2 separate regions of the Homo sapiens genome follow, and region 2 is linked to region 1. Evidence: fine-mapped expression QTL. A gene starts in region 1. The other region holds a variant in brackets. All regions are shown on one strand. Distances are between the middles of the regions. Region 1 holds the start of SLC28A3 (solute carrier family 28 member 3). Region 2 has its middle 9.1 kb from the start of SLC28A3-AS1.

What was found. PIP is the estimated chance that this variant, and not a neighbour inherited with it, causes the effect. A credible set is the group of variants that fine-mapping cannot tell apart.
Region 2: its variant is the best candidate, but not a certain one, in a credible set for the expression of SLC28A3 in fibroblasts (GTEx, PIP 0.53).

What each region holds. Positions count from the first base shown.
Region 1 is chr9:84,338,050-84,343,432 of GRCh38, reverse strand. It overlaps SLC28A3 (solute carrier family 28 member 3), which reads left to right and starts at 2,675. Exons shown (of 18, transcript NM_001199633.2): 1 at 2,675-2,859. The coding sequence starts at 2,800.
Region 2 is chr9:84,266,341-84,271,723 of GRCh38, reverse strand. No RefSeq gene overlaps it. Among named protein-coding and RNA genes, the nearest start is that of SLC28A3-AS1, 9.1 kb to the left of the region's middle. The variant G/A (reference allele first, on the strand shown) is at 2,169.

The DNA of each region.
Region 1 (5,383 bases):
ACAAGAAAAGAAAAATAACTCCCACAGTCTGAGCTATGTGAGATATGCAAAATCTATCAGGCCCAGAGAGACTGGGCCTCAGTCACTGATAAAGAGAAAACAAAAATAACTCACACAGTCCCAGCTATGTGAGCAATGCAAAATCTATCAGGCCCAGAGAAACGGAGGGTTGGACTTCAGTCACCACTCAACCCTGTGCCCGGGGGCAATTTTTTTTTGCTTTTGTTTTTTGTCTTTTGTTTTTTTTTTGAGATGGAGTCTTGCTCTGTCACCCAGTCTGGAGTGCGGTGGCGTGATCTCGACTCACCACAACCTCCACTCGACTCACCACAACCTCCACCTCCTGGGTTCAAGCAATTCTCCTGCCACAGCCTCCCAAGTAGCTGGGACTACAGGCATGTGCCACCATGCCTGGCTAATTTTTGTAGTATTTAGAAGAGACAGGGTTTCACCATGTTGGCCAGGCTGGTCTCGAATTCCTGACTTCATGATCCATCTGCCTCGGCCTCCCAAAGTGCTGGGATTATAGGCGGGAGCCACTGTGCCTGGCCAGGGGCAATTGTTTTAAAGGAATTTTGTTCCTGACTGGCTGCCTTTCTGTTCCTAGAATGTGTGATACAAATAGCAATGTATAGCCAATCAATAGCTTATGTTATTTTAATGTAAATAATTGGTAAACAACTCAGAAACTCCTTCTTTTCCTTTAAAATTCACTTGTGGCCAGGCACAGTGCCTGTAATCCCAGCACTTTTGGAAACCAAGGCAGGTGGGAAGATTGCTTGAGCCCAGGAGTTCAAGACAAGTCTGGGCAACATAGTGAGGCCCCCAGTTCTACCAAAAAAAAAAAAAAAATTTAGCCATGGGTGATGGCACCTGTCTGTAGTCCCAGCTACTCGGGAGGCTGAGACAGGAGGATAGCTTCAGCCCAGGAGGTCAAGGTTGCAGCAAGCCATGATCATGCACTCCAGCCTGGGCAACAGAACACACACACACACACACAAGAATCTACTTGTAACTGCTACTAAGTGTATATTCAGAGCAACTTGAATATGTGCTCCCAAGTTGCAATCTCAAACTTAGACCAAATAAACTCTATACTTACATTAAGTTTGTCTCCGTTTTTTCCTTTAGGTTAACAATAATAAAAGTAAATCATTCTCTTTATAGAAAACTCAGCAGCATTTGAAGGAGAAAAAAAAAACACCAACTGCCCATAAAATTAAAAACCGAGAAATAACCACTCATAATACTTGGTATTTTCTTACTTTTTCTTTTTCTTTTTCTTTTCTTTTTTTTTTTTTTTTTGAGACAGGGTCTCACTCTGTCATCCAGATGGGAGGCAGCGGTGCGTTTTCGGCTCACTGCAATCTGTGTCTCCTGGGTTCAAGCGATTCTCCCGCCTCAGCCTCCCGAGTAGCTGGGACTACAGGCGCACGTTATCACTCCTGGCTAATTTTTGTATTTTTAGTAGAGATGGAGTTTCGCCATGTTGGCCAGGCTGGTCTTGAACTCCTGGCCTAAAGTGATCCACCCGCCTTGGGCTCCCAAAGTGCTGGGATTACAGGCGTGAGCCACCGCACCAGGCCTTTTCCATTCTTTTGTCCACAGTTTTGCAGTATTTTAAATTGTACTAGGGGGGAAAATCCCTATTTTAAAAGAATTCTACAGCTAATATTTTCATAAAGCAAAGTGAATTGCTTTATGAAAACAAAGCACTTCTATTCACTTTTGATAATTGAATAGCTGGTCACCTTTCATTTACTTGTCACATATCGGCATTTCTGTAAGCTGGATTTTTGAAAGCAGCCCAGTCTGAAGCAGGGATGTAATAAAAGGTTTTGGAATTAACCAAACTTGAATTTGAATTCTCATTATCCCTTTATTAGCTAAATGACACTAAACAAATTGTTAACTTTTCTGTACTTCAGTATAGAATTTTGAGTTGTTCGGAAGAAGAGCCAAGACCCTTACCTACCTACCTATCTGTCTATGTATCTATCCATCTATCCATCCCTGGTATACAGTAGGTGATCACTGAGGGCGGCATGACCTTATATCCTGTGTTCACTCACCCTCCACCCCACCACCACTCCTAGTCTTTAACACCACCCACAGGAAAACAGAGGATTTCACTAAGCACTATAGAGAACGTGTCCTTTTCTGGCTGGGCACGGTGGCTCATGCCTGTAATCCCAGCAATTTAGGAGGCCAAGGCAGGTGGATCACTTGAGGTCAGGAGTTCAAGAACAGCCTGGCCAACATGGTGAAACCCCGTCTCTACTAAAAATAAAGTCAGCCAGGTGTGGTGGCATGCACCTGTAATCCCAGCTACTTGAGAGGCTGAGGCAGGAGAATTGCTTGAACCTGGGAGGCAGAGGTTGCAGTGAACCGAGATTGCGTCACTGCACTCCAGCCTTTTTTTTTTTGAGACTCCATCTCAAAAAAAAAAAGAAAGAAAGAAAGAAAAAGAAAGTGTCCTTTTCTGTTTTGTGCACCACAAGAGTTTTCTCCCCAGGAGTGCAAATAGGATGCCAAAAATGGGGATAAAGGAAAAGATTAATAAGGTGGGCGGGCCAGCACTAGATGCCTCCACCCCGCCAACCCGCCCGCCTCTCTGCCCCACCCCAACCAGGTGTCAGCCCTAGTCATTCAGGAGATTATTGCAGAAGTTTCCAAACTGAAGCAAGCTGTGCCCAGGTCCCTGTAACAGCAGGTGGCTTTCTGACATCAGCAGAGACTGGTGCTTTTTCCCAGGTACAAAGGACCTCCAGACCAGAGCCAGCCAGCAGCAAAAAGAGCATGGAGCTGAGGAGTACAGCAGCCCCCAGAGCTGAGGGCTACAGCAACGTGGGCTTCCAGGTGAGCAGAGCTTTCCTCTTATGTTAAAGGCCTTCAGTGGAAAAGCTGCCCTTTCCTTAGCCCCTTGGCAAGTTTCTTACCTAAGCAGGGAGATTATCAGGACAATACGATTTTTAACGGCACACTTTAAGCCCATTATTTTTTCTTCTTGGGCTCTTCTGGGTTGACAAACCTGAAAAGTCTCTTTTAATCGATGTGTTGTGATCCCTATGGTCACTTAGAAACAAGACAGCCTTCTTCTCTTGCCTTTTTTCCCTTCTGGCTCACAGCAGGGGTCCATTATTTATCTTCAGGCACTTTTCCAAAGAACTGGTGAGAAGGGAAAAATGGGGGAATTTAGATCCTGGCTGGGGTAGTGTCTCAGGGTTCCTTTTACTCAAGCCAAGTCCTGGAGCCCCTGTCAGATGGCCCCGGTACCTGCCCCAGAGCAGCTGGATTACGCAAATCAGTCTCACTTCATCAACCAAAACTCACTGAGTGATTAATGCTGCTCAGCCCGAGGCTGGGTGCCCGCAGAGACATAGAAGGAGACCTGTCAGAAACACCAGGCTATTTTGACTGGGTCTGGGATGGGGATTTCCAGGGCTGTTTTTAGGTGTGCTTCCTTTCCTTAGCTGACACTCAGCATGGGCGCTCTGGAGAAGATGGGAAGCCTGCACCGGCAAGTGTCAACAATCCCTTGGACTTTACGGTCTGCTAGATGGGCAAAACAAAACTTTGAGGTGCTAGCCAAGAAAGGAAAGAGGGAGGTAAAAGGGCTTTGACAGGAGTTCAGACTCCAGCACCCACAAATTCCTGTAACTTCCCAGAGCCCAAGTTTGATCATCTGTCCCATGGTCACAGTGATGCCCATCTCCATGAGTAGGCATCGGGTTACCACTTATAGGTCACAAGTGTAGGAGAGGAAACAACTTCATCTACCCTCTTAGGTTGAGTGCCTGAGGCCTGCAAATTAAACCAACATAAAACAGATTAGCAGGAGAAAAGGCACGCAAATTTTATTCATATTTAAAATCTCACATGTGGCTGGCAGTGGTGCCTCATGCCTGTAATCCTAGCACTTTGGGAGGCTGAGGCGGGCTGATCATTTGAGGTCAGGAATTTGAGACCAGCCTGGCCAACATAGTGAAACCCCATCTCTACTAAAAATACAAAAATCAGCCGGGCATGGTGGTACATGCCTGTAGTCCCAGCTACTCGGGAGGCCGAGGCAGGAGAATCACTTGAATCTGGGAGGCAGAGGCTGCAGTGAGCCAAGATCGTGCCTCTGTACTCCAGCCTGGTTGACAGAGGGAGACTCAGTCTCAAAAAAATAATAATAATAAAATAAAATCTCACATGTATGAGAGCCTCACATAAAAGAAACGGAAAAACCTAATAGACTCAGGAGCTTATATACCATTAAAACAAAGCACGGCAAATAGTGAAATGACTAGACAAAGGAAAAGAGGGTTATGCTTTTAGGGACAATAAAGTGGGGGTGGGAGGTGGAAATAATGGAAGATAAGGGTTAATTTATCGAGGTTTGTTCATGCAGATTTATCTCAGCGGCATCTCTGTCTTTGGTGATAAGGGTTGCTCTCTTCCTTGTATGAGCAAGCGGGACACCTGTGCAAGGGAAATATCAATAAATGTGCTGCTTTTAGGAAGATGGGGGATGGGGGAGGGCAGAGAGCTCTTTCTGTGTCTGCTTTCTTTTTCATAGCCTTCAGTTCAAAATATTCTTGTGCCAAAATGTGGGCATTTGGAGGGTGGCACATCCTGATCTCTTCTCTAAGGGCTAAGTGAGGGGGAAAAGCATAAAGCATGGGCCCATTCTGATTCCAGAGAATGGAAAGGATGGAATTGGATAGAGTCAGAGGAAGTATGGCAGCAAGAAAATATATCTGCAATAGAGAAGGTCCATGTCACAGCAACTGGCTGCTCCCAGGGAGGAGGGCACACAACGGTGGTGATCCCTCACTGTCTTCTAGCAAAACTGCTGTTTTGTGGGGGAAACATCCCCCTACACCTGCCCCAATAAAAAGAAGGAAAAATGAAAGGAAGCTTCCTCCTAGTTCTGTAAAATTTCCTGTCATCCTTACTCATTGGATTGATTGAAATTTGAATTTCTACATTTCAAAATCAAAATAGTGAAGACAATTTGTCTTTCAAGAGAATCAGAGGCCTCATAACTCCTGCCAAGTTAATAAGTATGAGTCTTACCTTGTTTGACATTCAGCTCTCCTGCTACATTATCTTCTTTAAGGAAAATTAATTGATTGTAAAATATGTGCTACTTCACTCGCATTATTAAATATGCATTAACATGCCACCAGGACTTCCAAATAAGTTAGGATGCTTACTTATTCACCTTGTCCTAGTCTGTGAATTGTGCTAGAAATTCATTTTTCTTCTTCAAATATTAAGAGTGCCCTTGGTAGACCAAAGTTCTAATTTTACTAAGTAGAACTACTTTCACAGCTTGAAATGCTGATATGGGTTCCCAAAAGGCCTGTGCCTGTAAGACCTGGTGCAGGTGCAA
Region 2 (5,383 bases), 72 kb after region 1:
GCAGTCTGATTTGACTACTCTGTTTCCATAGCAACAGACGAGGCGTCCTCGAACCAGCGAGACGTGCGGAACATGATGTGCTCGCAGGAGGCTGCAGCTGGGCGCTCAGGAACGCTGTTTTGTTTTGTTTCTCAAAAGCCACTGAAGTATTCAGAAAGAATCCAATCAAAATTGCATTTAAAATGGGTGGGGAGGGGGTTGTTCTTTTCTGGCCTTTCTGATGACATGAGGATGAAATTAATTTCTGAAATGCGTTCTCCTTCCTCTTACCAGTAATACCAGGAATATGCTTGAGGGGAATTTTAATCAGGTTAAAGGTTTTTACCTGTGCCTCTGCTGAGGTGTATAGCACAGACAGCGACCAGAAATGAATGGCAAGGAAACGCACAGATCCCGATAGTCTCCCCAGCAACTGGCTGGGGATCTGTATGGGCCTGAGAGGACAAAGGCAGAGATTTGGAATCTGGAGGTGGCTCCAGAATATCCTGTGTTGTCTCGCTAACTAGATTAGGAGAGGCACTCAGGAAGGCATTTTACCTCTTCCTCTTTTTATAATAGCTTTTGCAAAATGCTTCATTGCAAACGTAATCATATTTGTTGTAGAAAAATTCATCATTTTAAGAAGAAAATAAGAACTTTACCCATGTCCCATTACAAAAATATATCTAGTGCTAATAATCCATGATGTATCGCCATTCGATGTCTGTGTGTGTGTGTGCGTATGTATGTGTAACACTTTTTAAATGAGATCACACTACTGTGATTTATTTTGAGGAAGCTTTTCCCCCTCCCCTTTAGTATGTCAAGAACATTTTCCCACATTAAATATTCTTTTACATCATCATTTTAAAATCACTGAAGGGCATTCCATTATATGAGGAACCATAATTTAACTTATCCCCTATGGTTGGCCATCATGGATATTTCCTATATTTTATGACTATTAACAAATGAGCAATAAATATTGTAGTCAAATACTTGCACAAATTCATGACTAGTGATGATTTTTTTTCTCGCGAGACATACAAAAAGTGCAGAGACACATAGAGATTTGTCTGCCAACAGCATGTTTCCTATCTTATGCCAGGCCTCTGGACAAAACCAAATGATCAATCATGGAATAGATAACATATTTCCAATACAAAGTCAGACTATTTCCAGTACTCAAAAGCTCAGATTCTGCTAGCAAGGAAGAAAGTCACTGACATTGTACACAACAAAGACACCCAGTTATATCTGTCCACTTAAATAAAAAGATGGTAGTTGAAACCAGTCAGCAAGCCTGGGCTTATGTGTGATTTCATACACTAACCACTGGCATCCACTTTGTATTAATAACAACCTTTGGCAAATGACATACCAGGTTATCCTCATTGGATTAAAGATGAATTTTCTAGTTGCAGTGTTGGAACTATAAACGGTTTATGTCTTCAGTAGCCTTTTACACTGACAACACAGATGCTTTGGGTATGAATAAGACAAAAGCAAGTTTGCCCGACCATCCTTGCCCTGAGTCCAGGAAGAAAAGAGAAGTCCTAGCCCTCAGAGAATCAAAAATTATGGTACCAGTACAGTTGGATACAAGGCTGACAGCTGGGGAGGGGTGAGCACTGTGTAGATCTCTGAGGAATTAGGTTTGTTTACCCAATCAGGGGATAGCCAGCAATTTCACCAGCAAAAGCTGAATCCAGAACTGTGTGTCCTACACCATCAGCTTACCCACAGGGGCAACCATAGATTCTCCTTTGCGGGGAGGAGGGTAAACTCCCTGTACTCATGGTTCACAGACAGCAGCATACTCTATACATGGTTCTGTTCCTTGCTCTTTTTTTTGTTTGTTTGTTTGTTTGTTTGTTTAACATATCCTAGGGCTTTTTCCAAATCACTACATAAAAACTTTCTTCATTCTTTTGTATATATCACATGCCTCTACTATAATTTATTTCATAGTCTATTTATTTAGTGTCCCATATTTTACAAAAAACAAAAACAAAACAAAAAAAAGCTGCAGTGGCCAGGCGCGGTGGCTCACGCCTGTAATCCCAGCACTTTGGGAGGCCGAGGCGGGCGGATCACGAGGTCAGGAGATTGAGACCATCCTGGCTAACACGGTGAAACCCCGTCTCTACTAAAAAAATACAAAAAATTAGCCGGGCGTGATGGCGGGC[G/A]CCTGTAGGCCCAGCTACAGGAGAGGCTGAGAAGTGAACCCGGGAGGCGGAGCTTGCAGTGAGCCGAGATCGCGCCACTGCAGTCCAGCCTGGGCAACAGAGCGAGACTCCGTCTCAAAAAAAAAAAAAAAAACATGCTGCAGTGAATAGCCTCTACCTATGTCGCTTCCCACAGGTGTGACTATACGAGTATATTGCACAAGAGTGAAGTAGGCAAAATTTTCTCCTATAAAGGAGAAATTGCTAGAAATGGAACTGCTGAAACTTAGTGCATGTACATTTGTAATTTTGAAATAAATTGACAACTTGTCCTCCATGAAGATTTGACTAATTGATATTTCCACCAACCATACACAGTGCAGTATTTAACTAAACTTTTAGTTTATAAAATGCAAAGGAAATGGTACCTCAGTGTTGTTTTAATTTACATTTCTCTTGTTTAATGAGGTTGGACATCTTTCTGCATGTTTAAGAGCCATTTGCCTGTCCTCTTCTTTGAACAGTCTATTCCTACCCTTATTCATTTCTGTATTGGTAAGGTTGTCTTTTCCTCAGACATTAATAGGTGCTATTTATCTGTTAGGAAGCATAACACTTTATCTGTGGCATGAATTGCAAATATTTCCTCCATATTGCCATCTGTACTTTTATTTTTTTGTAGTTCTTTTTTGCCATGTAGAAGTTTCCACATGTAAAGTAAATTTATCTGTTTAGGCCAGGAGCAGTGGCTCACACCTATAATCCTAGCACTTTGGGAGGCAGAGGCAGGAGGATTGCTTGAGTCCAGAAGTTGGAGACCAGCATGGTGAAACCCCATCTCCACAAAAAAAAAAAAAAAAAAAAAAATCCAGGCTTGGTGGCAAGCGCCTGTAGTGCCAGCTACTCAGGAGGCTAAGGTGGGAGGATGGCTTGAGCCCCAGAGGTGGAGGTTGCAGTGAGACATGACCCCACCACTGCACTCTAGCCTGAGAGACACAGCAAGACTCTGTCTCAAACAAACAAAAAAAATTTCCATACTTAAATATATCAATCTCTTTTATTATGGCTTCTAGATTTTGTGTCATAGGAAAGCCATCCCCACTCTAAAGTCATAAAGAAATTTTCTCATCCTTTCTAGTAGAACTTTTGTGGTTTCACTTTTCATATTTGTCTTTGATCCATTTGGGATTTGTCCTCCTAAATGGTGTGAGATATGGCTTCAGATTTTTTTTTTTTTTTTTTTTACATTTTTTTCTAGATGGTTGTCCCAATATCACTTATTGAATACTGGTACAGCTGGCCTCAGTAACCATAGGTTCTGCATCCTTGGATCCAACCTTGAATAGAAAATGTAGCTAGGCCTGCAATGGTTATGTCTGTACTGAACATGTAGAGACTTTTTTTCTTGTCATTGTTCCCTAAATGATACAGTACAACAACTATTTACATAGCATTTACATTGTATTAGGTATTGTAAGTAATCTAGAGATGATTTACCGGAGGATGTGCCTACATTATATGCAAATACTATGCCATTTTATGGCCTCCTGGGGTTTTGGTATCTGAGGGGACTCCTGGAACCAATCCCCCAGGAATACCAAGGGATGACTGTCATCCCTTTTATCATTAAGTCCCCTGTATTGGGATTATGTGGACTTTCTGCTCTGTTCTATTGGTCTGTCTGTTTGCTCCAGTGAACATTAACTGTTTGATCTTTAAAATGAAGATTATAATATCTACCTGAGAGAACTGGCCTTAAGAATTAAATGAGGCCAAGCATGGTGGCTCATGCCTGTAATCCCAGCACTTCGGGAGGCCAAGGCGGACAGATCACCTGAGGTCGGGAGTTCGAGACCAGCCTGACCAACATGGAGAAACCCCGTCTCTACTAAAAATACAAAAATTAGCCAGCCGTGGTGGCGCATGCCTGTAATCCCAGCTACTCGGGAGGCTGAGGCAGGAGAATCGCTCAAACCCAGGAGGCGGAGGTTGCGGTGAGCTGAGATCGCACCATTGCACTCCAGCCTGGGCAACAAAAGCGAAACTCCGTCTCAAAAAAAGAAAAAAAGAATTAAATGAATGTGTAATGTTTGGCCCATAGAAGAGTTCAATAAGTTTCTGCGGAAAATTTTGCCTACTTCACTCTCATACAAAGAAATGCAGATACCCAGATTGTTCACAGATAATCATGGTTCAAAGATTAGCTTTTTCATTCCACTCTGAACTAAAGGCTCCTTTACATAAACTAAAGGCAGATAATGATTTTATCAATGATCTCCATAATAGGTTTAAGGTGGTTTTAGTGAGTTGTTCACTAACCTACTTTGAAATGAAATTCCTAGGGCCATTAATCCCCTGAAACTTGTTTGCCAAAGCAAATTACCAGACAAGACTGGGTTTGAATCCTGGTTTAGCCACTTATCTCTGAGATTCTGTTTCCTTATTATCAAAAGAGGGATAATTATATCTCCTCCTATTCTGAAAAATATTGAGATAATAATATAAGAAAAGTAGCTAGTACTGTGCTTGTCATATAGTATATGTTCAGCAAATGTAGCTTTAACAAATTTTTGTTATCATTATCATGTTCTTTGTTGTAATCATTAAAGATGATGGTTTTGGGTGGATGAAGACAAAAGGAGGGTAATAAACACTAAAACAGGAAAGAAAGAAAGAATAATCAGAATACTAAAATCAAAACTACTTCCAAAACTAAGGTGTATCGATAGAAGGATAGAGGAATATACAACAACGATAAACAATAAGTGATAAATCAGGTAAAATGTTAATGATAGAATCTAAATTTACACAATAAAACTCCTTCGAATTTGCCGTATGTTTGAAATTTGTTATAGTAAAATATTAGGAAAAATTAAAGGCTACCATTGCTTACTCCCTCTAGTCCTAATTTCACCATAACCCCCAAAAACGCTCAAAGGTAAAGGATAATTGATTTTCCTTTAATCTTGATATTTCATATAGAGTGGAGAACTTGTCATTTGCCTCCTGGCCAATTTTTCAAGCTGTCTTTGTGAATGTGATTCACTCCCTTCCCCTAAGATTCATACTTTCTATTTCCTGCTGGTCAAACTGACAGCTCCAATTTACACACACCTGCCATGAATATACTAATGTCCCAGAATCTCCCCTCCCTTCCTGTTTCTCTCAAGCCACCAACTCCCAGAGTCCAAACAGCTTCGTACCAGGAAACCGTAGAGTGGAAGTTGGGGTTTAGA